7 linked regions of the Homo sapiens genome follow. The protein of the gene in region 7 purifies or fractionates together with the protein of the main gene of each other region. This does not show direct contact. Each region holds a gene or a part of one and is shown on either strand. Other genes may lie near its edges. The genes, in order: AFM, SDHB, TMPO, UGGT1, SFXN4, ACSL4 and MTMR14.

Region 1 (3,500 bases), on a different chromosome or scaffold from region 7:
TGTAAAAGGATAATCTGAGATGAAGAAAACTAAGATTTTTAATGAACTAAGTTTGAATTGTCAGCTAACAGCCAAATTGCAGAAATAGGAAAGTCAGATATTTTTAAACTGTGTTTTATTTTGATTTAAAGATGTTTAGTTTCAATAAATAATACATTAGCATGAGGCCAGGTGCAGTGGCTCACACCTGTAATCCCAGCAAAGTCCGAAGGGTTGGATTGCTTGAGCTCAGAAGTTCAAGACCAGCCTGTGCAACATGGCAAAACGCCATCTCTACCAAAAAATACAAACATCAGCCAGGGATGGTGGCTCACGTCTGTAGCCCTAGCTACTTGAGAGGCTGACGTGGGAGGATCACTGGAGCCTGTGAGGCAGAGATTGCAGTGAGCTGAGATCACACCACTGCACTCCAGCCTGGGTGACAGAGAGACCCTGTCTCAAAAATATGTAGTAATGATAATAATAACAATAATAATAATGATAATAAAATACATTGACATAATAATTGAAAAAAACCCAAACTGCATATTATTCACAAATGCTCACAAGAGCACTAAAAAGCTAAATATTAAAGTGTTAAACACATCCTGAGTTATTTCTATAAACTCAGGTAAGATAGCCGTAAGGCAAGGCAAGGCAAACTATCTCTTCCCCAAAGAAACTGTAATGACCTGAAATATGCAGTGTCCCACTTTGAAATGGGTGAGGATGCAGGGATTCTAGATTGGCAGTGAGAAAGCCAATGTCAAACAGAAACCAAAGCATTAGAGAATCAATGTCTCCAGAATCCTGTATTTCTTTTATTTTTAGCTTCATTTCTGATAAAAGATTAATGTGACAGTTCAATAGGCATTCTTGACTTTAAAAAAAAATTCTTCCAAGAGTTTATGAATCGGCCATAACTGAAAAACTTGACAGCTAACTTTTTTACGCTTCGAGGGATTATGTATTCAATTCTAGTGGCAAGTGTTAGCCCACTTGTGCAAACAACATACTGGTATTTCAAACCATCCTTCCCCAAATTCTGGAAATGTTTACATTCTTGTTGTACCATCTTGAGGCTTTTCTCAGTTGTCTCATTGAATTTGTCTTCCTGAAAATAAGAATAATCATGGTTACAAACATTTTATCTAAAATTTAACCATAAGCTTTACATCAATGTGTAGAATAGCATTTCTTATTTCTATGGTATTTTCAAATTCTCATTATTACACTAAATTCAGGGCACTTTTTACAAGCACGTGCAAGAACTTAATTTTTTAATTATGTATATAAAAATATATTTCTTGCTAAATTTAAAAGTCCAAATTTTTTTATTATCACCTTGTACATATTTCAGAGCCTTCCAAATTACAAAACAGAATTTAAATTGTATGTTGAAAATAATAACATTCAGTTGTCACTTTGAAGTGGCAAGAGCAGTTGTTATCTCCATTTTTAAGTAAAGGCAACTGGCCTTGTGAAATTAAGTGACTTACCCAGAATACCCCAGCTAGTAAGTGTTGTTACAGAACATTTTAAATCATGTTGCTCTTTTTGATTTTTTCATTGTTTAGATTTGGAACTTAAAACCTCCAACAGTTTTCTTCAAATATTTGATGGACTATCTCTCATGTGGCATAAAATTGGACATCTTCTGAGTGGCCACCAGACAGAGAACTAAACACCAGTGGATAGCTATTGTGGAGCAAATTGTATCTCCATGAAAAGAGAGAATTTTCTAGCGCTATGATTAATTTAAGGATCAGAAACAGACTACCTCATTAGGGACAGTTACAGAGCAGGGATCCAAGTCTTATTCCATTGCTCAAATTTGAGTGGGTATAAACTGGTGTTTGTGGCAAGTGAAAAAAAATGTTTTGCTAAAGCAAAAGTAGCACATATCAAAGGAAGGAGAAATAAATCAAAAAATGTCAAATTATTAATTTCTCTAATATGTATTCAGAAATACATATGAATTTATATGAAAAACACTAATTTCAACAGGAAAATGGGTAGTACACATGAACAGATTTTTCACAGAAAATGTGTAAATAGCTAAAATCATATGGAAAAAATTTAACAATTTAAAAATCAAATAAAGGTGTTTTAAAAACACAAACACTGTTATTTACATATAAATCTAGCAAAGTTAATTTCCATGTGCAATGTTGGTAAAAGTGACATTGAAATGAGCATTTCCAAGCACTGTTGTGGGGCCAGACACCAGAAACAACTTTCTTGACAGTAATTCAACAATTTGTGTTAAATGTTTTTTAAAGTTCATATATTTTGATCCAATAATTTTCCTTCTGATAATCCATCCTAAGAAAAAAGCCATAAATATTAATAAAGATAAATGGAAGGAGACGTTCATCTCAGGGTCACTTACAAAGTGAAAAACACCCTAAGCAAACATCCAAAATGTCAAACACACAGTAGGAAATCAGTTAAATAAATTAAATAATTATGATGGGATACCATCATTTAAAAAGAAGTTTATTTTCAAGTCTGTTTAATGACGTAAAAAGTTTTCTATACTAGACACAAGAAGAGTCAAGGACTAGCTTCCCTAGAGGGAACACAGCCCTTCTGACACCTGATGTTAGCCCCATGAGACTCATTTCAGGCTTCTGGCCTCTTGTGAGAGAATAAATTTTTGTTGGTTTAAGCCGCTCCCTTTGTGGCAACAGCAGGAAACCAAGGAAGCACAATTTATAACAACAACAACAAAAAAGTTTTCTATGATACCAAATAAAAAAACAGGTCCAAACATTTTCTAGGAATTATGCCAATCTTATTTTTAAAATACACGTATATATACGTATATGTACTGAAGAGTTGAACACAAATGTTAATTATAGCTATTTCCCAGTGGGAGAATCAGAAAAGGGTTCTTTGTAACCTTTGTTGCTTTCCTAATAATCAACAACAATCAATCATTACTTTTGAAACCATAAAGAATCCAATATGGCTTAATAAAATACAGAATATTTTCCTAGTCATCTACAGCAATCATTGCTTTTGAAATCATGTAATATCCAATACGGCTTAATAAAATACAGAATACATAAAGAAAAATGTAAATTTAAAATGTTTAATGGGAAGACTTTTTTGAATTAACACATTGGATTAGTAGTCCAAAACATTATGCATCAGCCAAACTGATGACATTGGCCTTCCCAATAATCTTCTTAGGCTGAATCTACAGTGGACTCAGATTAGCCAATCACATTTTCTACCCCCAGACTGCAGCAAAACTCTGATATCAATTTTTAAGTGTTTTCTAGTTGTTCTTTTTTGATTTTCTGAACCTACAACAATGGAACCTACCGCGTAACGGTAACAACCTGGAGGGTTTTCTGTGTTGCAGCAATTTCTCAGGAGATCTTTGTATATTTGAACAATTCTTAAAAGCTCTGGTATAGACAGGTCTGGATGTCTCCTTGAGTATTCAAAAGTAAACCTGCAATGTGTAAAATTTTGTATATTAGAAATTAGAGAAAGAGCAAAAAACCCAA
Region 2 (2,405 bases), on a different chromosome or scaffold from region 7:
TATCTCTGTCTCAAACAAGCCCAGTACTCATGTTTTTTTAAAAAATAACATAAGGTGACATTTATTGGGTGCTTACTATGTGCCAGGCACTGTTCCAAGCACTTTTATAGCATAACTTGCCTCAGAGGTCAGTAGCTATTCACAGGCACAATCATGGTAAACCACAGTCCTGGGGACAGGACCCAGATGGAAGCCCAGGCAATAGGGAGCTGAAGCCTGTGGGCTCCCCCAGCGAGGCCACTGGAAACACAGAGGGTTTCCAGGCAAAAAATAAGTGAATTCTACAGCTTGGATTTCATGTTTTCAAACACACAGTGTGATCTTTTTTTACGGCTAACTGGCCACCCTACAGTTTTCCACCTTGCCGCCCACTGACTCACTGCAACTTTTGAGTGAAATCACCCACAGTCTTTGCTCGGAGGGCAGCCGTGTTCTGAACCACACAGCCCTAGCCCTTCCCTGCCCACTGGGCAAGGCTGACTGGACCAGGGCTGACACCTGCTATGGTTTGAATGTGTCCCCAAAAGCTCATGTGTTGAAAACCTAATCCCCAATGCAACAGTATTGAGAGGTGGGACCTTTAAGAAGTGATTAGATTATGAAGGCTCTGCCCTCACAAATGGATTGCCATTATCATAGGAGTAAGTTCCTGATAAAAGGATGAGTTTGGATTAGTCAGGTGTGGTGGTGTGTGCCTGTAGTCCCAGCTACTCAGGAGGTAGGAGGATCACTTAAGGCCAGCAGTTCCAGGCTGCAGTGAGCTATGATTGCGCCACTGCACCCCAGCCTGGGCAACACAGTGAGACCCTGTCTTTTAAAAAAAACAGATGAGAGGGGCCGGTCGCGGTGGCTCACGCCTGTAATCCCAGCACTTTGGGAGGCCAAGGTGGGTGGATCACCTGAGGTCGGGAGTTCGAGACCAGCCTGACCAACATAGAGAAACCCTATCTCTACTAAAAATACAAAATTAGCCAGGCATGAGTGGTGCCTGCCTGTAATCCCAGCTACTCGGGAGGCGAATGCAGGAGAATCACTTGAACCTGGGAGGCGGAGGTTGTGGTGAGCTGAGATCGATCGTGCCATTGCACTCCAGCCTGGGCAACAAGAGCGAAACTCTGTCTCCAAAAAAAAAAAAGGCTGAGCTTGGGCTCCCTTTCTCTTGCCCTTCTGCCTTTTGCCATGGGGTAATACAGCACGAAGGTTCTTGTTAGATGCTGGCGCCAGCCTCTAGAGCTGTGCGTCAAATAAACTTCTTTATAAAATTACCCAGTCTGAAATTCTGTGATAGTACCACAAAACAGACTGAGACAGAACCTGGCCAAAGGGCAGCCGGTCTGTAGCCAGCTGTGGCCTCTGATGTGCAGGCATGAGAAGGTGAGCTGGGCCAATGCGACACCCTCTCAGGAAACTGTGCTGAGAAGTGCTGGGAGGCAGGCGGGTGGCTGAAGCTGGAAGTGTGCTGGGAGGCAAAATCCAGGCCAGAGTGAGCCAAAAGCAGCAGCAAATGCGAGCAGGAAGAGGAACGAAAGCCAGAGCTTTGAGTCAGAGAAAACCTCCACAGAGCCGAAGGAAAGAACAGGCTGCTAGAGAGCAGAGCAGATTAGCAGCTGACATCGCGAGAAAGATGGAGAAGAAATGAAGTCCTCACAGCTGCCCACGTTCCAACGGCTTTCGCTTTCTGTTTCCTGGGAAGGTTGAACGCAGGTACCTGCTCATGGGTTCCTGTGCATCCTTAACTCCCACAATGTCCCTGTGTAGCCTACAAATAAAGCCTGCTCCTGAGGTGGCCCGAGTCAGTCTACTCCTTGCAACTAAGAGCCAAACTAGCCCCTAGGCTCACACTGAAAGGACAGGCATATGCTGGTCCCTTTCCTTCTCAAATGACTAGGGTTGCTCTCTGCCAATCACCTCTTTGTGAGCACATGCTACTTCTGGCGTGTCAGCTCTGAGGCAGAGCTGAGGGTCACCAGCCCCACGTACCTTAGGACAGGTCCTTGTGCAGTTCATGATGGTGTGGCAGCGGTATAGAGAGAATGGGTCCTGCAGCTTGGCCAGGCGCTCCTCTGTGAAGTCATCTCTGGAGTCAATCATCCAGCGATAGGCCTGGAAAACCAGGGATGATTAGCTGAGCTGCCAATCAACAGGCCAGAGCGGCACCCTGGCTCAACTCAAAGCTCTGGGAGTGCAGAGGAAAGGGAATTCACTCAGCTTAGATGCCTCATCTCCATACTCTTTAATTCTTGTCCATCTTTCAAGGAAAGGTTCCCAACACTTGTAGCTTCACTTGATTAATGGTCCCTGCAAACCTTTGATCCATACTGCACCTGGTACCCGGGTGCTTAATTATACACACTGGGTATCATCTCCTAATTATTTCACATTGCTCAATAGCTTCCTACCCAGCT
Region 3 (3,500 bases), on a different chromosome or scaffold from region 7:
TTTGTATTTTTAGTAGAGACGGGGTTTCAGCATGTTGGCCAGGCTGGTCTTGAACTCCTGACCCCAAATGTTATGCCCGCCTGAGCCTCCCAAAGTCCTAGGATTACGGGCGTGAGCCATGGAACCTGGCCTGAAATACTTCAAATAAAGCAAGATATGAGAAATTCTTTTTAAAAAGCTGCTAATGGCTAATCATTCTATAATCAGAAGCCAAAAAACCTTCACCAAAAAAATAGCTGCTCATAAGAACAATTATGTCAACTTACGAGAAATCTTAAATAGACGGCTGTGGAGAGTTACAGTGAGAGTACTTTTAGCAGGCTTTAATTCACATACATTGCACTGACCTAGAACTGTCAGGCTCATATCTGGAAGCAACCCACACCATAATATCCAAATAGTTGCCTAGGGTCTAAGAGTTCTAAGACTTATTTCTTTCAAGAAAAGATTTAATCAAACAAACTTAATCCTATGTTACTGACTTACTCAAATTTTCCAAAAAGTGCAGTCAGGTAGTACAGAAAAACTAAATAATGCTTAAAATAAAAATAAAACATGGAAAAACAATCAATCAGGTTCAAATTATTTGTACATAATCCCCACTACCACGAGAATGTTCAAATTTACTATCAATAAAACATCCAGGAAATTCCAACTTTTCAAACCCGCCTGAGAGGTTTTCAAGAAATCTCTTTGGGCCAGGTGCAGTGGCTCATGCCTGTAATCCCAGCACTTTGGGAGACCAAGGTGGGTGGATCACTTGAAGTCAGGAGTTCGAGACCAGCATGGCCAACACGGTGAAACCCCGTCTCTTTTAAAAATGCAAAAATTAGCCGGGTGTGGTGGCACATGCCTGTAATCCCAGCTACCTGGGAAGCTGAGGCAGGAGAATTGCTTGAATCTGGGAGGCGGAGGTTGCAGTGAGTCGACATCATGCCACTGCCCTCCAGCCTGGGCGATAGAGCAAGACTCTGTCTCAAAAAAAATCTTAACTCTTTTTTTTTTTTCTTTTTCAAGGTGGAGTCTCTTAACTCTCTCGCCCAGGCTGGAGTGCAGTAGCGCCATCTTGCCTTGCTGCAACCTTCTGCCTCCCAGGTTCAAGCAACTCTCCTGCCTCAGCCTCCTGAGTATCTGGGACTACAGGTGCATGCCACCACGCCCAGCTAATTTTTGTACTTTCAGTAGAGACAGGGTTTCACCATTTTGGCCAGGCTAGTCTCAAACTCCTGAGCTCGTGATTTGCCCACCTCAGCCTTCCAAAGTGCTGGGATTACAGGCGTGAGCCACAGCACCCAGCCCAAAATCTTAACTCTTGTTACCTCTATTTGGAAAGGTCTTACCCATTTCTGATTCTTCACCTTGGGCCAGATAATCTGTTTGTAATTGTGTAGCCCAGGTGATCTGGATGCAGCATTGAGGCAAGCAACAGAAAGCAGACGCACTATCATCCTCATATTCTTATTCCAAGCATCTAAACATTTCTAAAAAGACTGATACAGGAATAGCCCCCTGATAAATGTTTTGTCAAATCTGGGGAAGGAAAAAGTAATTTATTTTTGAAAATCCATTTCTTATTAGAAATAACAGGCCTATCAAATCTAAGTAAAAACCAATTCTCGGCAGTGGCTCATGTCTGTAATTCTAGCACTTTGGGAGGCCGAGGAGGGAGGATCTCCCGTTGAGGTCAGGAGTTTGAGACCAGCCTGGCCAACACGGTGAAACCCCATCTCTACTAAAAATACAAAAATTAGCCAGGTGTGATGGCACACGCCTATAGTCCTAGCTACTCGGCAGGCTGAGGCTGGAGAATCACTTGAATTGGGGAGGCGGAGATTGCAGCGAGCCAAGATTGCGCCACTGCACTCCAGCCTGGGTGATAAGGCCAGACTTCGCCTAAAGAAAAAAAAGAAAGAAAGAAAATCAATTATATTTCCTTCAAACATAATGAAAAACATCAGCTGAACAAAGATATCTTAAATAAGTGACCAACAAATCTACATAAGGTAAGTCAGATAAATTAAAACCAAAAACGTGATTTTTTTTTTTTTGAGATGGAGTCTCACTCTGTTGCCCAGGCTAGAGTGCAGTGGCATGCCCTCCATCTCCCAGGTTCAAGAGATTCTCCTGCCTCAGCCTCCCAAGCAGCTGAAATTACAAGCGCGCAACACCATACCCGACTAACTAATTTTTGTATTTTTAGAAGAGACAGGATTTCACCATGTTGGCCAGGCTGGTCTCGAATTCCTGACCTCAGGTGATCCACCTGCCTCGGCCTCCCAAAGTGCTGGGATTACAGGTGTGAGCCACTGCACACAGTCAAACATGTGGTTTTTAATCTGTCAGGAAAAAAGTTCCAGAAAAGTGATGTCATTTTATAAATCTCAGATTTAATAAGGATAAAAAATTAGGAGACAGTGTGCTGTACATGATTAGCAGTTTCAGTCAGGAAAAAGGAAGCATCAGTTGCATTAAATTCTGCCTCCAGAAAGCTTTGTTCCTTTAAGTAGATCACTTAAGAGTTTCACTCAAAAATAGTACCTACTATGCTACCCGATGATCTCTAACGTATTTTTCAACTTCAAAACCCAACAGCTCTATGATATCACCGATGAGCTTCTCTAATTCCTTTAATCTCTACCTCTAGTATAAAGATGTTGAACCATAACAATATATTCTAGTGGGCACTTATTATGTATTACGTACTGAGTTGTGTTCCAAGTGTCTTTGCATTAACTTACAGAGTCCTAAAAATCTATGGAATAAAATGCTAATATCCCCATCTGACAACTCAGAAAACTGAGGTTCAAGCATGCTCTTCACTAACTCAGGAAATCTGCATGCTATGATATACATGTCACTTTCACTTATCTACCTTATTCGTTTCCCAAAATTATATTTTAGTAACATTGCACTATATTGCCCTGACATTAAAGACAAAAATTCAGAAATCATTTAATGGCTATTAATTACTAAGCACTAGACACTTCACATATGCAATGGCATGTACTCCTCAATCTGATTAAGTAGCTATTAGGTTATTCCTCTATTTCAGGTGAAAATAGAGGATCTTAGATTAAGACACTGTTCAGTGTCATATGAATAAGTGGCAGACCTGGAATTTGAATCTATAACTCTATTATTCACAAGTCTGTAAACTTAACACCTTATTATACAGTGGTGGTAAATTTGTGATTTAATTAACATTTCCTATTGGTAGCATGCTTTTATGTTCTTTTCCAGGTCTTCAAATATTTCCTATTGAGAATTCATAATTTGGCCAGGAGCAGCAGCTCACACCTACAATCCCAACGCTTTGGGAGGCCTAAGCAGGAGGATCCCTTGAGGCCAGGAATTCAAGACCAGCCTGGTCAACATAGTGAGACTATCTCTATAAAAATTTTAAAAATCAGCTAGGCATGGTGGCACACACCTGTAGTCCCAGCTATTCCAGAGGCTTGAGCCCAGGAGTTTGAGGCTGCAGTGAGCTATGATCATACCAC
Region 4 (3,500 bases), on a different chromosome or scaffold from region 7:
CAGGCTAAGCCAGTGGAAGAGAATTCCAAAGAGGTGAGTGAAGTCTCTGTCCCAGTGACTTTCACACACATTACATCCTTCCACTCAGGTGGCTGACTTGGGTTTCCGCCCGCTCGGGCTGAAGTGGAAGGCTGTGGGCAGACGTACACTTATGCTGTTTGAGTTTGTATGCTCTAAAATCACATGTTCCCTTTCACTAAGTCAAACCCTGACGGCCGGAAGAATATCCGGAGGTTCCCTACTGCCAAAGCCATGTATCCACTTAAGCTTCGTCTATTACCCATGACAATAACTCCTATCTTTTGGGCAGATAATTAGAGATGATGGCAAGCACTGCTAAATGTTAATTTTCTAATTTTTAGTTTTCATGTTAAATGAATTAAGTCAGATACAAAACTGCACACATTATGTCATCACAATGATGTTAAAAAGACAGAGAAAAAGATGTAAAGGAGATAAGCTAAATGCAAATTTAAAAAGTGATGACATCTATGTGATACATATTTTCATATTTTCTAAATGTAAAATAAGCATGTCCTTTTCCATAAGTGGAAAAAATAGCATTTAAAAAGAAGCAATTTGTTGCTTTTAATACAAACTGTCAAAACTTGGCCTTTAAGGGCCTACCTGATCAGCATCCACAAACAGGAACTTGTCAACAACTAGTGGGAAAAGTACATCCAGGAAGAGGATCTTGTAACCCCAGATGATACGCTGTTTTTCAGTTTGTTGATGAAGCCACCGGGGCCATTTGTACTGAACAAGCTCATACTGGAAATTGTATTCATTTGCCATGTAAGGTATAAACTCCTATTTTTAGACATGGGAACAACAAATAATCATTTCTTCTGATTAAGAAAACTGCTTTCATAATGTAAGCCAACCACCATGATACGGGACAAATAAAACACATTTACCAAAACAGTGGTCTTACAAAGACCGGCCGTGACCCACTCATGACTACATAGAAGAACAGATATAAACCTTTGTCAAATCCCCATTTCTTTATGACTTCTGGTCACCACATGAAATGACAGAATGTTCAAGAGAAGGATTTTAGATGTATATCCCTCTGTGTGTGTTTTTACAGCACATGAACTTTAAGTCCATTTGTCTAAACTTGATTTCAGTAAGGCATTTACTGAGCTTGATGACAAGCCTTCCTCGAGGCCAGATCTAACCCAGGGAATAACACTGCAAAGCCAGAACTCTGGACAAATGTGTTGTCCTTTTTGAATAAGTCTTTCAGATTCTAAGTATAAGCACCTTTAGGCGCCAGCAGTAAAGTGCTTATCAAGGAGAATGGTTATTGAATATATTAAAAGTCACTTAGTAAATTCTACAAGAAAAAAAAAGGATGCAAATAAATCAACTTAGATGACAAATACTGACTGATATAAGTAATGCAGAAAACATTCCAAGTACGTGTTTTGTTTTGCACAGAGGAAGCACTACTTCCATACATCATCTAGGAGTGGTTCATGCTAACACCAATCATTCTCTTCAATGTAAACCATCGCTGTGCTTTCTAAATTAAAGCAAGCATGCAGGCTTCAGAGGAAGGAAACGTTATCTCAGTAAGACACTGCTAATAATAACAACAACAAAAGACTCTCCTACCATATCATCCAAGTTTTTAAACACAATTTAACTGTTTCCTTCAAATAGACCAATCTGGAAGAATAATCAAAATAAAAATATGCAACCAAATTAGGGTATCTTAGTAAATGGAAAATTTGCTAAAGTATACAGATAAAACAAAAGTCATGAAAAATATACAGTAAATATCTCCTTAATAAGAATGTTTTCCCTTTCTCTGTGAAACAAACCTTAAATGTGGGGGACAAGTAATTCTTCAAGAACCAGAATTTCACAGGAGTCTTGGTATTCTTCAGCACGGATAGCATCATTATGCTGCCAAACAAAAGCAGGTAATTAATAACAGCTTTCCAATGTTATTTAACCTCAACATTATGTAGAGTCAATCACGAGACACCTAAATGCTCTTTACGGCAGAGCTAACTAATGGCTCAATTAGGCCGAGGGAGACGCTCAGTGATGGAAAATGAAAAATTGTACTTACTCCAACTTATGAAGTTATCACTAAAGAGAAGGGGCATTCCTCACCTATAAAACTACACTTAACTGACAGAGGCAAATGTTTTAATTCTGTTACACCTCTAAATAAACTGCTTCATGAACTGATATATTAGTTATGGTCCAGATGAACCCTGGAAATCGGGGTAACTGACATCACTCCCCAAAACTCCTGTCACATGACATCAGCATCTGGTGCTAAGGGAAGAATGTGTAACCACAGCGCCTCCTGCAGCCTACACAGAGGCCCTGCTTTAGAGAGGAAGGCTACCAGCTCCGGCCTCCTTACTCAGAAAACAAAACCACATTTTTGAATGGAGGAATTTAACCAAATTCGGTTGTTATTATTGTCACTATTTTAGGTAGGATATTATTTCTTGGAAATAAGAGGGCTAAAAATGAGACAAATGACATTTTGATTTTCTATACTAGATCTGTAGTGAAAAATTAAGAGTGAACAGAGCCCTGGCAATGAGAAAAGTGACTCTCAGGCCTTCCTGACAGTGCCTCTGGTGACCACTACATCAGGCAGCCCTAGCCCGTGGCCTCTTCTGGCTGTAGCTGTGTGACCTTAGACAAGTCCCTTCACACTCGGGGCCTCAGCCTGTTTATAAAACAGAAGTGTTCACATGTAAGAACTAAGCTCTCTCCTGGCTCTAAAATCCTGTGAATCTTTACAAGGCAGTGAAGTATTCCATGGTTCTGTTCTGATTCTATTCTCTATGTCAACCTCCTAATCTCTGGGTTAAGCAATGTTTGGCAGGCAGTAAACAGTACAGTCTATGAATGTGTACAGTGACGTTAAAGGGCTGCAGCCTTGTAATATCCAGAAGCACTCACTACATAGTTCAACTTCACAGAGACGGCGGGATCAAAACAAATCCAATGATAAATGGCAAGCCAGTCACAATGCTCAGAGTGCTTCAAAGACACAGGAGTATAATGAGCAGAATCCCACAAAACCTTTCCTCTCTAAATAAGAACACTGACCAATTCATTCATCATATATAATGAAATAATCAACAAGACTGACCGAAGAAATCTTTCGTAGAGATGACCAGATGCAACGGAGAAAATATTAATTATGTCATCTTTATCTTGCTTCACTTCCTCAGTCTTCTGTCCTGTAAAGCCCCTATAACAATAAGGGTAAAAAAAAGACCACTTGAAACACTCATACAGACACACGGCCTTTGAAAGTAAGAGGAAAGAGACTGCGCTTCCCATCCTTCCCTAGCGGGTGAGCTGCAGCAGGAGTGGTTATGAAGCTTCCCTCACACCCTGGAGAGACCACAAGACTGACAAAACCAACCTACAAAAAGAATGTTCACTCTCCGACAGTGTTGTTTTAGGAAGAGACTGAACACAGGCTGCACCAGAATGCAACTTACACAACGGGAAGT
Region 5 (3,500 bases), on a different chromosome or scaffold from region 7:
AGGCTGCGGAGGAGGAAGAGGGATTGGTCTTGCTGTCTCAGGGGTGACTGAGGGGGAAACAGTATATAAGTGGACCTGCATTGTTCAAACCTGCATTATTCAAGGGTTAATTGTAATGATATTTATATTTAATTCTATCCCTCAAATCTCTTGGTGCAGTTTTGGGTTCTGTTTTTCTTAACAATATTTCATAAGCCTTTTTTTCTGGGGCATAAAAAGAAATCTTTTAAAATTACTTAGAGAAATTTTAAATACTCCAAAATGTTCTATAACTACGCCCTCTCCAGTGGAACTTTCTGCAGTGATGGAAATGTTCTATAATAGATTGGTGCTGTCCAATTATGGTAGCCATGAGCTACGTGTGCTACTGAGCACTTCAGGAGAGGCTGGTGTGACTAGGGAACTGAATTGTAAATTAAGTTAAATTTTAAATTAGGTACTCTTGTGTGCTTAGTGGCTATTGGACAGCCCAGTTCTATAGATAATTTATAATATAATTTATGATGAGTCAGGCTGCTTGGACTCAGATTCCAGCTTCTCCATGACCTTGGTCAACTTGCTTAGTTTTCTTATCTGTTAAAGAGAGCTGAAGATAATGGCATCTCTGCAAAGGGTTGTTGCTTAGTAGGTAGCAAGGACATTTTTTTTTTTTTAAGTCAGAAAGCCAATTTTTTTAATTTCCAAAGCTCTGCCATAAATTGCTAGCAGATGTCAAAGACATTACTGATGCTAGCAGATATTAGCAATTTTTTTTTTTTGAGACGGAGTCTCGTTCTGTCACCCAGGCTGGAGTGCAGTGGCGCAATCTCGGCTCACTGCAAGCTCCACCTCTCGGGTTCATGCCATTCTCCTGCCTCAGCCTCCTGAGTAGCTGGGACTACAGGCGCCCGCCACCACACCCAGCTAATTTTTTGTATTTTTTAGTAGAAATGGGGTTTCACCATGTTAGCCAGGATGGTCTCGATCTCCTGACCTCGTGATCCGCCCGCCTCGGCCTCCCAAAGTGCTGGTATTACAGGCGTGAGCCACCACGCCCGGCTGATACTAGCAGTTTCTTGGCTAAACATTTCAAATGTTCATTTCTGTCACTATAAATATATATGTCCTCAAAAGCATTTATATTTATGGAATGATCTTGTTCAGAACCCACGTTTTATAGGTTTAGGTTGTAGGATCATTCATTCAAGCAACTTTGCCAGCACAACGTAGAAGTTTCAGATTATTTTAGATAGTTATGCCTATTACTATGCTATGGGCGAGGGGTTGGGGAGCGAGGCAGCATCTCAGAATAAAATTTCAGGCCAGGCACGGTGGCTCATGTCTGTAATTCCAACACTTTGGGAGACCAACGTGGGAAGATTGCTTGAGGCCAGGAGTTCCAGACCAGCCTGGGGAATGTAGTGAGACCTCGTCTCTACATAAAATGTTCTAAAAATTAGGTCGGGTGCTGTGGCTCATGCCTGTAATCCCAGCACTCTGGGAAGCCCAAGTGGGAGGATCACTTGAGCCCCGGCGTTCAAGACCAGCCAGGACAACATAGCAAGACCTCGTCTCTGCTAAAAATAAAAATTTGGCTGGGCACAGTGGGTCATGCCTGTAATCCCAGCACTTTGGGAGGCCGAGGTGGGAGGATCACTTGAGCTCAGGGTTCGAGACCAGTCTGAACCTCATCTCTCTTCTGAAAAAAATTGTTTAAAAAGAAAAAATAATAATTAGCCAGGCATGGTGGTATGTGCCTGTAGTCCTAGCTACTCAGGCAGCTGAGGTAGGAAGATCACCTGAGCATGGGAGGTCAAGGCTACAATGGGGTCACAGAGTGAGACCCTGTCTCGAAAAAAAAAAAATTAGTAGGGTGAAGCGGCACACACCTGCAGTCCCAGCTACTCAGAAGGCTGTGGTGAGAGGATCACTTGAGCCCAGGAGGGAGAGGGAAGAGTTCATCCCCAGTGGAGGATGGGAAGGGCTGAATGGGCACGTGAGGCTGCAAGGAACAGGCAGGATGCTGGGGGCCAGGTGGCAGGGCCTGCACAGCCAGGCCAAGGAGCAGGGCAGCAGGTAAGTCATGCAAGGTTGGAAGGGGCAGAACTCCCAGAGGCCAGAGTGGAGGCAGGAAAGGGAGTCAGTCTCACGCGTGACCTCAGATGCCAAGACTTGCTTGCTGGACTTTGGAAATATCCTGTTGGGGCCGGGCGTGGTGGCTCATGCCTGTAATCCCAGCACTTTGGGAGGCCGAGGCGGGCGGATCACGAGGTCAGGAGATTGAGACCATCCTGGCTAACACAGTGAAACCCCGTCTCTACTAAAAATACAAAAAAATTAGCCAGGCATGGTGGCAGGCGCCTGTAATCCCAGCTACTCGAGAGGCTGAGGCAGGAGAATGGTGTGAACCCTGGAGGCAGAGCTTGCGGTGAGCCGAGATCGCGCCACTGCACTCCAGTCTGGGCGACAGAGCAAGACTCCATATCAAAAAAAAAAAAAAAAAAAAAAATTCAAAACATTAGCTGGACGTGGTGGCGGGTGCCTGTAGTCCCAGCTACTCGGGAGGTTGAGGCAGGAGAATGGCGTGAACCCCAGAGGCGGAGCTTGCAGTGAGCCGAGGTCGCGCCACTGCACTCCAGCCTGGGTGACAGAGTGAGACTCCATCTCATTTAAAAAAAAAAAAAAAAAAGACACAAAATATCCTGTTGGCTCAAGGAGGGCATGGAGGTGCTTAGATGAGATAAGGAGTTATTACTAATTTTGTTAGGTGTGACAATGACATAGTAGTTTTGTAACTACTGTCATTACTATATCAAGTACTATATCAATAATGATAAGGTCTTTATCATTTGGAACTTGTAGGTGACATGACATGAGAATTGCCTTAAAATACTCAAGGAAAAAAATCCTACTGCTGGGTGTGGGAGGTGCTTGATGAAATGAGATCTGCAAATTGTTAATAGTGATTCCTGAGTGAGCACATGTGAGTTCATTACATTCCTTCTACATTTGTTTTTTGTTTGTTTGTGTGTTTGAGACAGGGTTTCTCACTCTGTTGCCCAGGCTGGAGGGCAGTGGTATGATCATGGCTTACTGCAGCCTTGACTCCCAGGCTCAAGTGATCCTCTGACCTCAGCCCCCCAAGTAGCTGGGACTACAGGAACGTACTACCACACCTGGCTAATTTTTTATTTTTTGTAGAGATAGGGTCCCACTATATTGCCCAGGCTGATTGCAAACTCCCCACCTCAAGCAATCCTCCTGATCTCGGCTCACTGTAACCTCCACCTCCCAGGTTCAAGTGATTCTCGTGCCTCAGCCACTGGAGTAGCTGGGATTACAGGTGTGTGCCACCACACCCAGCTAATTTTTGTATTTTTTGTACCATGTTAGCCGGGCTAGTCTTGAACTCCTGGCCTCAAGTGATCTACCTGCCTCAGCCTCCCTAAGTGTTGGGATTACAGGCATGAGCCATTGTGCCCAGCCATCTTAAAACTTTTTAATGGAAACTTTCAATTATA
Region 6 (3,500 bases), on a different chromosome or scaffold from region 7:
AGCCTCGACCTCCCAGGCTCAAGGGATCCTCCCACTTCAGCCTCTGGAGTAGCAAAGACTACAGGCACATGCCACCATGCCTGGCTTTTTTTGTTGTTTTTTGTTGTTGTTGTTGTTGTTTTGTTTTTTTTGTTTTTTTTTTAGAGACAGGGTCTCACTATGTTGTCCAGGCTGGTCTCAAACTCCTGGGCTCAAGCAATCTTCCCACCTTGGCCTCCCAAAGTGCTGGGATTATAGGCGTGAGCTGCAGTGCCCGGCCATCACTTGTCTTTTTAACTGGGTTATGATGTCTTACACTTTCCAGAAGATTTTTTAAAATATATACTTAGATTTTTAAAATATATTCTTAAGTTATTTTTGTGTATGATGAGAGATGGAGACTTATTACTTTCTAAATACACAGCCACCTGTCTTTACTCAATTTCCATTTTCAACATTACACTTAGAACACTTAAAAGAACTAAAGTGTCAACTGCTTCGTTATAAAAAAGGAAGTTGTACAAACAAAATAATAAACCAACAGTCTAAGCTCAGTTTGATAGGCTCTTACTACTATGTACTTAAAGATCACATAGCAGTTTCAGGAGCAAAAACACTACCATGCCTGGCTCTCTTATTACCGCTACAGCTCACAACAGGGTCTCCAAAAGACATCATAGACTGCATAGAAGTCTATCTGCAGCTTACTGATTGCCACACATGTAAATTCACATTCACATTTAAATAACCCACACTTAACAACAAAATCAACCGTCTCAACTCTCTATGCATTCCTTATTGCTGCTCCTAGACCACAGTGCTTTGGAGACTTAGTAAAGAAAATGAATGCACTCTCCTGAATCACAATATCACCTGGAAATGTAACCAGAAGGTATAAAAAGTCAGGGTAGTTTGTTAAATTGTGTGTGTGTGTGTGTGTGTGTGTGTGTGTGTGTGTGTGTGTGTGTGTGTGTAATCAACAATTTATAAGGTTACCTTATCTCTGGGGTCAGCACTTTTTCTGTAAAGGTCCAGAGAGAAAATTGGCTTCACGGGACATAAGGGCTCTGTTTCAGCTCTGATGTTGTATTGTGAATGCGGCCAGAAAACACATAAATTAATGGATGTGGCTATATTCCAAGAGAAGTTTATTTACAAAAACCGGTGGTGGGCAGGATTTGGCCACAGGCAGTATTTTGCCAGCCCCTGCCTTATACCAATGTTTTATCTTTTTCAAATAACAATCTACTTCCCTCACTGCACACATATTTGAGTAAATATAGTAACACTGAAGGGACAAATAATTTCAGTACTGCCTTACAGAAATGAATATTCTCAAAATTAATCACTAACCTTTTCCTATAATTCCTTCTCATATGAGCACATACATTTTTCAAAATATAAAACTGTAAACATCACCTTGAACCTAATATTTATTTCAAAAGACAGTTACAATGAGTGTCATGTAGCTGCTATAAAAGGAAAAATGCAGTCTAGACAGTCAAATACAATGATCTTTTATTCATTATTCTCATAATCAACAGTGAGTAGAAAAGTCTGCTAAATACATGGTCATGAATCATAACTTCACTACTCAAAATGCAGAAGTAGACTTTCAAAGTACATTTAAATAAGAACACAAATTTGTTTTTTGGATTACTTACCAAAATCCTTGATGGAAAATGATACAGTTTTGCCAAAATATTTTTAATTTAGAAAGTGAAACCAAAAACCTCTTTAGCATATCATGCGTCTATTTAATTTTAAAATACAAATTTTAATGTTGCATTTGACAGCCTGGTGAGGTAGACATTATATTTTTAAGGCAGCCATTTTAATATAGTGAGAGCATGTGTGAATATGTATTAACATTCTAAGCCATTAAGGCCACTTGTTCACAGAATATATTTGAGCTCTAAAATTGTTGAAAGAGAAAATGCTCAAATAGCTTACAGAAATAATGGATGTTATACAGAACAGAAAGGAATCAAATTAAATAACAAAAGTTTGTAAGATTTCTTGACACCAAAAGCACAGTCCATAGAGGAAAAATTAATAAACTGGACCTCATCCAAATTAAAGCCTTTTGCTCTGTGAAATTCCCTGTGAAGAGGTTGGAAAGACAAGCTACAGACTGGGAGAACATATTTTCATACCACTACCTGACAAATGATTAGTATTAAGAATAAAAAGGCCAGGGGCGGTGGCTCACGCCTGTAATCCCAGCACTTTGGGAGGCCGAGGCGGGTGGATCATGAGGTCAGGAGATCGAGACCACCCTGGCTAACACGGTGAAACCCTGTCTCTACTAAAAATACAAAAAAAAAAAAAAATTAGCCAGGTGTGGTGGCGGGTGCCTGTAGTCCCAGATACTTGGGAGGCTGAGGCAGGAGAATGGCGTGAATCTGGGAGGCAGAGCTTGCAGTGAGATTGCACCACTGCACTCCAGCCTGGGCAACAGAGCGAGACTCCGTCTCAAAAAAATAATAAAAAACTCTTAAAACTCACCAGGTTAAAAAAAAAATCCAAATAGAAAATGGACAAAAGACATGAACTGATATTTCACTGAAGATACAGAGAATGGCAAATAAACACATGGAAAAATGATCAACATCATTGGCGATCAGAAAAATGCAAATTAAAACTAGGAGGATATATTACTACACACCTATGAGAATGGCTAAAATAAAAAATAGTAACAGCACCAAATGCTGTCAAGGATGAGGAGCATTCACACATTCCTGGTGGGAATGTAAAATGGTACAGCCACTCTGGAAAATGGTTTGGCAGTTCCTTAGAAAACTAAACATGCAAGTGCTATACCACCCAAGAAGTACACTCTCAGGCATTTCAGAAATTTATGTTCACACAAAATCCTGTGGACAACTGTTCATATGAGCTTTATTCAAAATAGGCAATAAATAAATAAATAAATAAGTAAAACAAACAAAAACCCTGGAAACATCAGATGCCCTTCAAGAGGTGACTGGTTAAACAAACTGCAGTAAATCCATATTATGGAATACTACTCAGCAATGGAAAGGAACAAGCCATTGATAAAAGGTATATTCCTTGCACTAATCTCCAAGGAATTATGCTGAGTGAAGTAAAGTCAGTCTCCAAAGGTTATATACTGTGTGATTCATTTATATAAGCATTTTTGAAATGACAAAATTATAGACATGAAAAACAGATCAGTGGTTGCCAGGAGTCAGGGATGAAGGGAGATGGCTACATCTATAAAAAGACAACAAAAAGGATCCTTGTGGTGATGCAATTGTTCTGTATCTTGACTGTGGTAGTGCTTATATAAATCTACACGTGATAACATTATGTAGAACTAAATACATACATGCAAATGACTGCATTAAAGGTGACGAAATCTGAGTAAGGTTGATGGATTGCATCGATTTCAATTTTGTAGTTGTGATGTTACACTATACTTATGCATGAGGCTATTATTGGGGGAAATTAGATAAAGCGTATTATTTCTTACAACTATATGTGAATCTACAACTATC
Region 7 (4,227 bases):
AAGGCATAAGAACTGTAACATCAAGAAGTTTGCAAGAGGGCCAGGCATGGTGGCTCACGCCTATAATCCCAGCACTTTGGGAGGCACCGAGGAGGGCAGATCACTTCTGATCAGGAGCTTGAGACCAGCCTGGCCAACAGGTGAAACCCTTTCTCTACTAAAAATACAAAAATTAGGCTGGGTGCAGTGGCTCATGCCTGTAATCCCAGCAGTTTGGGAGGCCAAGGCGGGCAGATCACGAGTTCAAGAGATTGAGATAATCCTGGCCAACATGGTGAAACCCCATCTCTATTAAAAATATAAAAATTAGCTGGGCATGGTGGCGGGCGCCTGTACTCCCACCTACTGGGGAGGCTGAAGCAGGAGAATCGCTTGAACCCAGGAGGCGGAGGTTGCAGTGAGCCGAGATCACGCCATTGCATTCCAGCCTGGGCGACAGAGTGAGACGCCATCTCAAAAAAAAAAAAAAAAATTAGCCAGGCATGATGGTGCATGCCTGTAGTCCCAGCTACTAGGGAGGCTGAAGCAGGAGGATCGCTTGAATCCAGGAGGTGGAAGTTGCAGCGAGCCAAGATCGCACCACTGCACTCCAGCCTGGGTGACAGAGGGAGACTCCTTCTGAAAAAAAAAGTTTGCAAGAAGTTAGTCCAAAGGTAGTGAGTTATCTCAATCGATTGTTCAGTTACAGATCTAACTCCCTGTTCTGCCTGAATTGTTATAAATACATATAAATATATATACATCTAAGTTTGCAGGAGATCAGAAGGCCTGGAGAGATAATTAAGGCCAGCCGCAGCCAATATGAGGTGTAACTTATGCTAACCCTAATCTTCAGGGTCATGTAAGTTGGAAGAGGGGTCCAGAAAAACCAATGACCTACAGCCACTCAAAAGACCCTTACTGGCCAGGTGTGGCGGCTCACGCCTGTAATCCCAGCATTTTGGGGGGCTGAGGTGGGAGGATTGCTTGAGCTTAGGAGTTTGAGACCAGCCAGGGCAATATAGCGAGACCATGTCTCTAGGAAAATAAAGAAAAATTAGCCAGGCATGGTGGTGTGTACCTGTGGTCCCAGGTGCTTGGCAGGCTTAAGTGGGAGGATCGCTCAAACCCAGGATTTCGAGGCTGCAGTAAGTCATGGTTGCACCACTGCAATCCAGCCTGGGCAGCAGAGCGAGACCCTGTCTCAACACAAAAAACAAAAACAAACAAACAAAAAAGCCAGGCGCGGTGGCTCACGCCTGTATCCCAGCACTTTGGGAGGCTGAGGTAGGCGGATCACCTGAGCTCAGGAGTTCAAGACCAGCCTGGCCAACCTGGGGAAACTCCATCTCTACTAAAAACTACAATAATTAGCTGGGCGTGGTGGTGGGGTCCTGTAATCCCAGCTACTTGGGAAGTTGAGGCAGGGAGAATTGCTTGAACTGGGGAGGCGGAGGATGCAGTAAGCTGAGATTGCGCCACTGCACTCCAGCCTAGGCGACAAAGCGAGACTCCTTCTCAAAAGAAAAAAAAAAAAAAAGCAAATTCCAGGATCCCACCCCCAGAAATTCTGACTTGGTAGGACTGGGTGGGACTAAGGAATCTCTGTTTTCACAAAGTATCCCATAAGCACAAATTTTAAAAGTACCCCAGATGATCATTAAACAGGTGGTCCCCAGACTATACTTGGAAAAATTACTTGGCCATTTGGAGAGTGAGGAAGTCCAATCCTTACTGAAGTCTTCCCTGGGTTACTTCAGAGACTACAAGATGCCAACTACAGAATAGCAACTCACGGTAATCTCTGAGGTCAAATCAGAGTTCTGTGGTGCAGGATGGAACAGAATTCCACTGGAAAACTTGGTGCTAAAGCTGCCAAAACCACGTGGGGGAATGAGATGGCAGGGTCGGCAAGATTCCCACCGCACTGCCAGCCAGTGCTTAGGGTGGGGATGGCCTGAGCTGACAGGAAGCCCTCCAGGTCTGGCGATAAGACGACTGGGTGGAAATCCCAAAGGGAGCAAAAAGAGGAACGGAGACCTGCTTTAGATAAAGGAACTGAAAGGGAGTGTGGGTTGTCTTCCTGCTCTATAGGGGAAGGAAAGGGATGGGCCTAAGTCATGCTGAGACCTTATAAGGGGGCAGCACACTGGGTTCACCTCCTGGCTCCATTCTGACCTCTGACCCCGAGGAATCGTCTCCCTATTTTTCTTAGCTTTTTCTTGGGGCTTTTTCCCTGACACAACTCATCCTACGGCACCTGAAGCAGGGAATAGACCTTCCTTAGGTCCTCCTCTCTGATCTTTGAACCTGGCCCCTCAGCTTGATCTCTCACCTCCAGACCCCTTCTCAAACAAGAAGGACCTCTTTGCTGGGCTCATTCTGACCCCAGTTCCTCCTTTTATGGTTGTCAAGACCGACTCTTATACTCCGGATACAGACCCTGGAGAACTCCTCTCTCTCTCTCCTCTTCCTCAGCGGCGAGGTACCACTCCTACCTTTTTCTGACCCCTGGCCTCAGCCTTTCCTCTGTAACTTCCCAAGTTAGGAGCCTTCCCCAGCTCATCGCACCTCCAATCTCACCTTAGAGCCGCCGGTCCCGCTGCCATCCTTGGCCCGGTACTGAGTCCGGGAGAACTCCTCCAGCAGCTCCCCAAGCCCCAGCTCCTGAGGCGGCTGGTTGCCTGAAGAGGCCGAGGACCCCGCCGAGGCAGCGGCGGCGGCGGCCCGAGCGCCGGCCATGGCCCAGCCCCGCGTCCCCTCAGTGTGCCTCAAGCGGGCCCATGGCACCTGCCTGCACCCAACTCCGACACTAGAACCTCCGGAACCGCCTCAGCCACCGCCTTCTACTTCCACTTCCACTTCCGGCCCCGCCCCGTCCCGCCGGATGTTTACTCCGACTCTGGCCAATCGGAGCTCTGGACCCGCGCCCCGCCTACGATTACTGGCCCGCCCCCGGCGCAGAGCGATCCTTCTATCCACCAGGGAGGCCACTGGCTGATACCGCGTGATCCGCCCCAAGGGGTTTCCCCCGGGGAAGCCGGGCTCAACCATTGGGCTGCCGGGGGAGGGGGGTAGCAGGAAGGAACCATTGAAAAGAACCAGAGGAAAAGTGGAATCAACAATTACAGGGAAGCCGAGCGTGGTGGCTCACACCTGTCATCCCAGCACTTTGGGGGGCCGAGGCGGGCGGATCACTTGAGGCCAAGAGTTCGAGACCAGGCTGCCAAAATGGTGAAACCGCATCTCTACTAAAAATAAAAAAATTAGCCGGGCATGGTGACACCCACCTGTAATCCCAACTACTTGGGAGGCTGAGGCAGGAGAATCGCTTGAACCCATGAGGCTGAGGTTGCAATGAGCCGAAATCGAACCACTACACTCCAGCCTGGGTGACAGAGCAATACTCTGTCTTAAGAAAAAAAAAAAATTACAGGGCGAGGAGGAGAGAACGCTTGGAGGCAACAAATTAGTACTAGAAACCATAATGGCAGTGGTTACCAATATTAAAACATTTCAGCCGGCCGCGGTGTCTCACGCCTGTAATCCCAGCACTTTGGTAGGCCGAGGCAGGCGGATTATGAAGTGAGGCATTCGAGACCAGCCTGATCAACGCAGTGAAACCCCGTCTCTACTAAAAATACAAAAATTAGCCGCGCGTGGTGGCAGGTGCCTGTAATCCCAGCTACTCGGGAGGCTGAGGCAGGAGAATTGCTTGAACCCGGGAGGCGGAGAGTGAGCCGAGATCGCGCCACTGCACTCCAGCCTGGGTGACAGAATGAGACTCCGTCTCTAAAACAAAAACAAAAACACAACATTTCATAAAACCCTTTCTCCCCCTGCTGCTCACAACATCCCTGTGAGTACAGTGCATTATATCATCAGCCCTATTTTATTGAGGTAGAAACTGGGAGTCAGGGAGGTGAAGCGACTGCCTTGAAATTCTGTGATGAGAAGCCTCTCATTATTATTATTATTAGAATATTTCAGACATTCGCAAAAGTGGAGACAATAGTATAATGAACCCTCATGTACCCATTAACTGGTTTTGAACAATAATCAACATCTGCTTATCTATCCTGTTTAAGCAGTCCCTTCCCATCCAGGGAATTATTTTAAAGCAAATCCCAGACATCACATTATTTCAGCTGTGAATACTTAAGCATTTATCACAACAGATTTGTACTTCAAAAAAAAAATACATAAAAAATATAAGGCTATTAACATGCCTAAGAAAATTAACAATAT

What was found.
Region 1: the proteins of MTMR14 (region 7) and AFM purify together in Homo sapiens (affinity purification with mass spectrometry, with the first as the bait; one large-scale study listed by BioGRID). This does not show direct contact.
Region 2: the proteins of MTMR14 (region 7) and SDHB purify together in Homo sapiens (affinity purification with mass spectrometry, with the first as the bait; one large-scale study listed by BioGRID). This does not show direct contact.
Region 3: the proteins of MTMR14 (region 7) and TMPO purify together in Homo sapiens (affinity purification with mass spectrometry, with the first as the bait; 2 studies listed by BioGRID). This does not show direct contact.
Region 4: the proteins of MTMR14 (region 7) and UGGT1 purify together in Homo sapiens (affinity purification with mass spectrometry, with the first as the bait; one large-scale study listed by BioGRID). This does not show direct contact.
Region 5: the proteins of MTMR14 (region 7) and SFXN4 purify together in Homo sapiens (affinity purification with mass spectrometry, with the first as the bait; one large-scale study listed by BioGRID). This does not show direct contact.
Region 6: the proteins of MTMR14 (region 7) and ACSL4 purify together in Homo sapiens (affinity purification with mass spectrometry; 2 studies listed by BioGRID and IntAct, with this or other methods). This does not show direct contact.

What each region holds. Positions count from the first base shown.
Region 1 is NC_000004.12:73,495,245-73,498,744, reverse strand, and holds part of AFM (afamin precursor), read right to left. Parts: intron 3,446-3,500; coding exon 3,313-3,445; intron 1,094-3,312; coding exon 996-1,093; intron 1-995. UniProt on the Homo sapiens protein: Functions as a carrier for hydrophobic molecules in body fluids. Essential for the solubility and activity of lipidated Wnt family members, including WNT1, WNT2B, WNT3, WNT3A, WNT5A, WNT7A, WNT7B, WNT8, WNT9A, WNT9B, WNT10A and WNT10B. Binds vitamin E.
Region 2 is NC_000001.11:17,020,628-17,023,032, forward strand, and holds part of SDHB (succinate dehydrogenase [ubiquinone] iron-sulfur subunit, mitochondrial isoform 1 precursor), read right to left. Parts: intron 2,104-2,405; coding exon 1,981-2,103; intron 1-1,980. UniProt on the Homo sapiens protein: Iron-sulfur protein (IP) subunit of the succinate dehydrogenase complex (mitochondrial respiratory chain complex II), responsible for transferring electrons from succinate to ubiquinone (coenzyme Q).
Region 3 is NC_000012.12:98,522,090-98,525,589, reverse strand, and holds part of TMPO (thymopoietin), read right to left. Parts: intron 1-3,500. UniProt on the Homo sapiens protein: May help direct the assembly of the nuclear lamina and thereby help maintain the structural organization of the nuclear envelope. Possible receptor for attachment of lamin filaments to the inner nuclear membrane.
Region 4 is NC_000002.12:128,178,200-128,181,699, reverse strand, and holds part of UGGT1 (UDP-glucose:glycoprotein glucosyltransferase 1 precursor), read right to left. Parts: intron 3,233-3,500; coding exon 3,131-3,232; intron 1,915-3,130; coding exon 1,830-1,914; intron 811-1,829; coding exon 628-810; intron 1-627. UniProt on the Homo sapiens protein: Recognizes glycoproteins with minor folding defects. Reglucosylates single N-glycans near the misfolded part of the protein, thus providing quality control for protein folding in the endoplasmic reticulum.
Region 5 is NC_000010.11:119,141,715-119,145,214, reverse strand, and holds part of SFXN4 (sideroflexin-4), read left to right. Parts: intron 1-2,841; coding exon of another isoform or gene 2,842-2,850; exon of another isoform or gene 2,851-2,962; intron 2,963-3,500. UniProt on the Homo sapiens protein: Mitochondrial amino-acid transporter. Does not act as a serine transporter: not able to mediate transport of serine into mitochondria.
Region 6 is NC_000023.11:109,726,758-109,730,257, forward strand, and holds part of ACSL4 (long-chain-fatty-acid--CoA ligase 4), read right to left. Parts: intron 1-3,500. UniProt on the Homo sapiens protein: Catalyzes the conversion of long-chain fatty acids to their active form acyl-CoA for both synthesis of cellular lipids, and degradation via beta-oxidation. Preferentially activates arachidonate and eicosapentaenoate as substrates.
Region 7 is NC_000003.12:9,648,078-9,652,304, reverse strand, and holds the start of MTMR14 (phosphatidylinositol-3,5-bisphosphate 3-phosphatase MTMR14), read right to left. Parts: upstream 2,801-4,227; 5' UTR 2,722-2,800; coding exon 2,563-2,721; intron 1,978-2,562; coding exon of another isoform or gene 1,776-1,977; intron 1-1,775. UniProt on the Homo sapiens protein: Lipid phosphatase that specifically dephosphorylates the D-3 position of phosphatidylinositol 3-phosphate and phosphatidylinositol 3,5-bisphosphate, generating phosphatidylinositol and phosphatidylinositol 5-phosphate.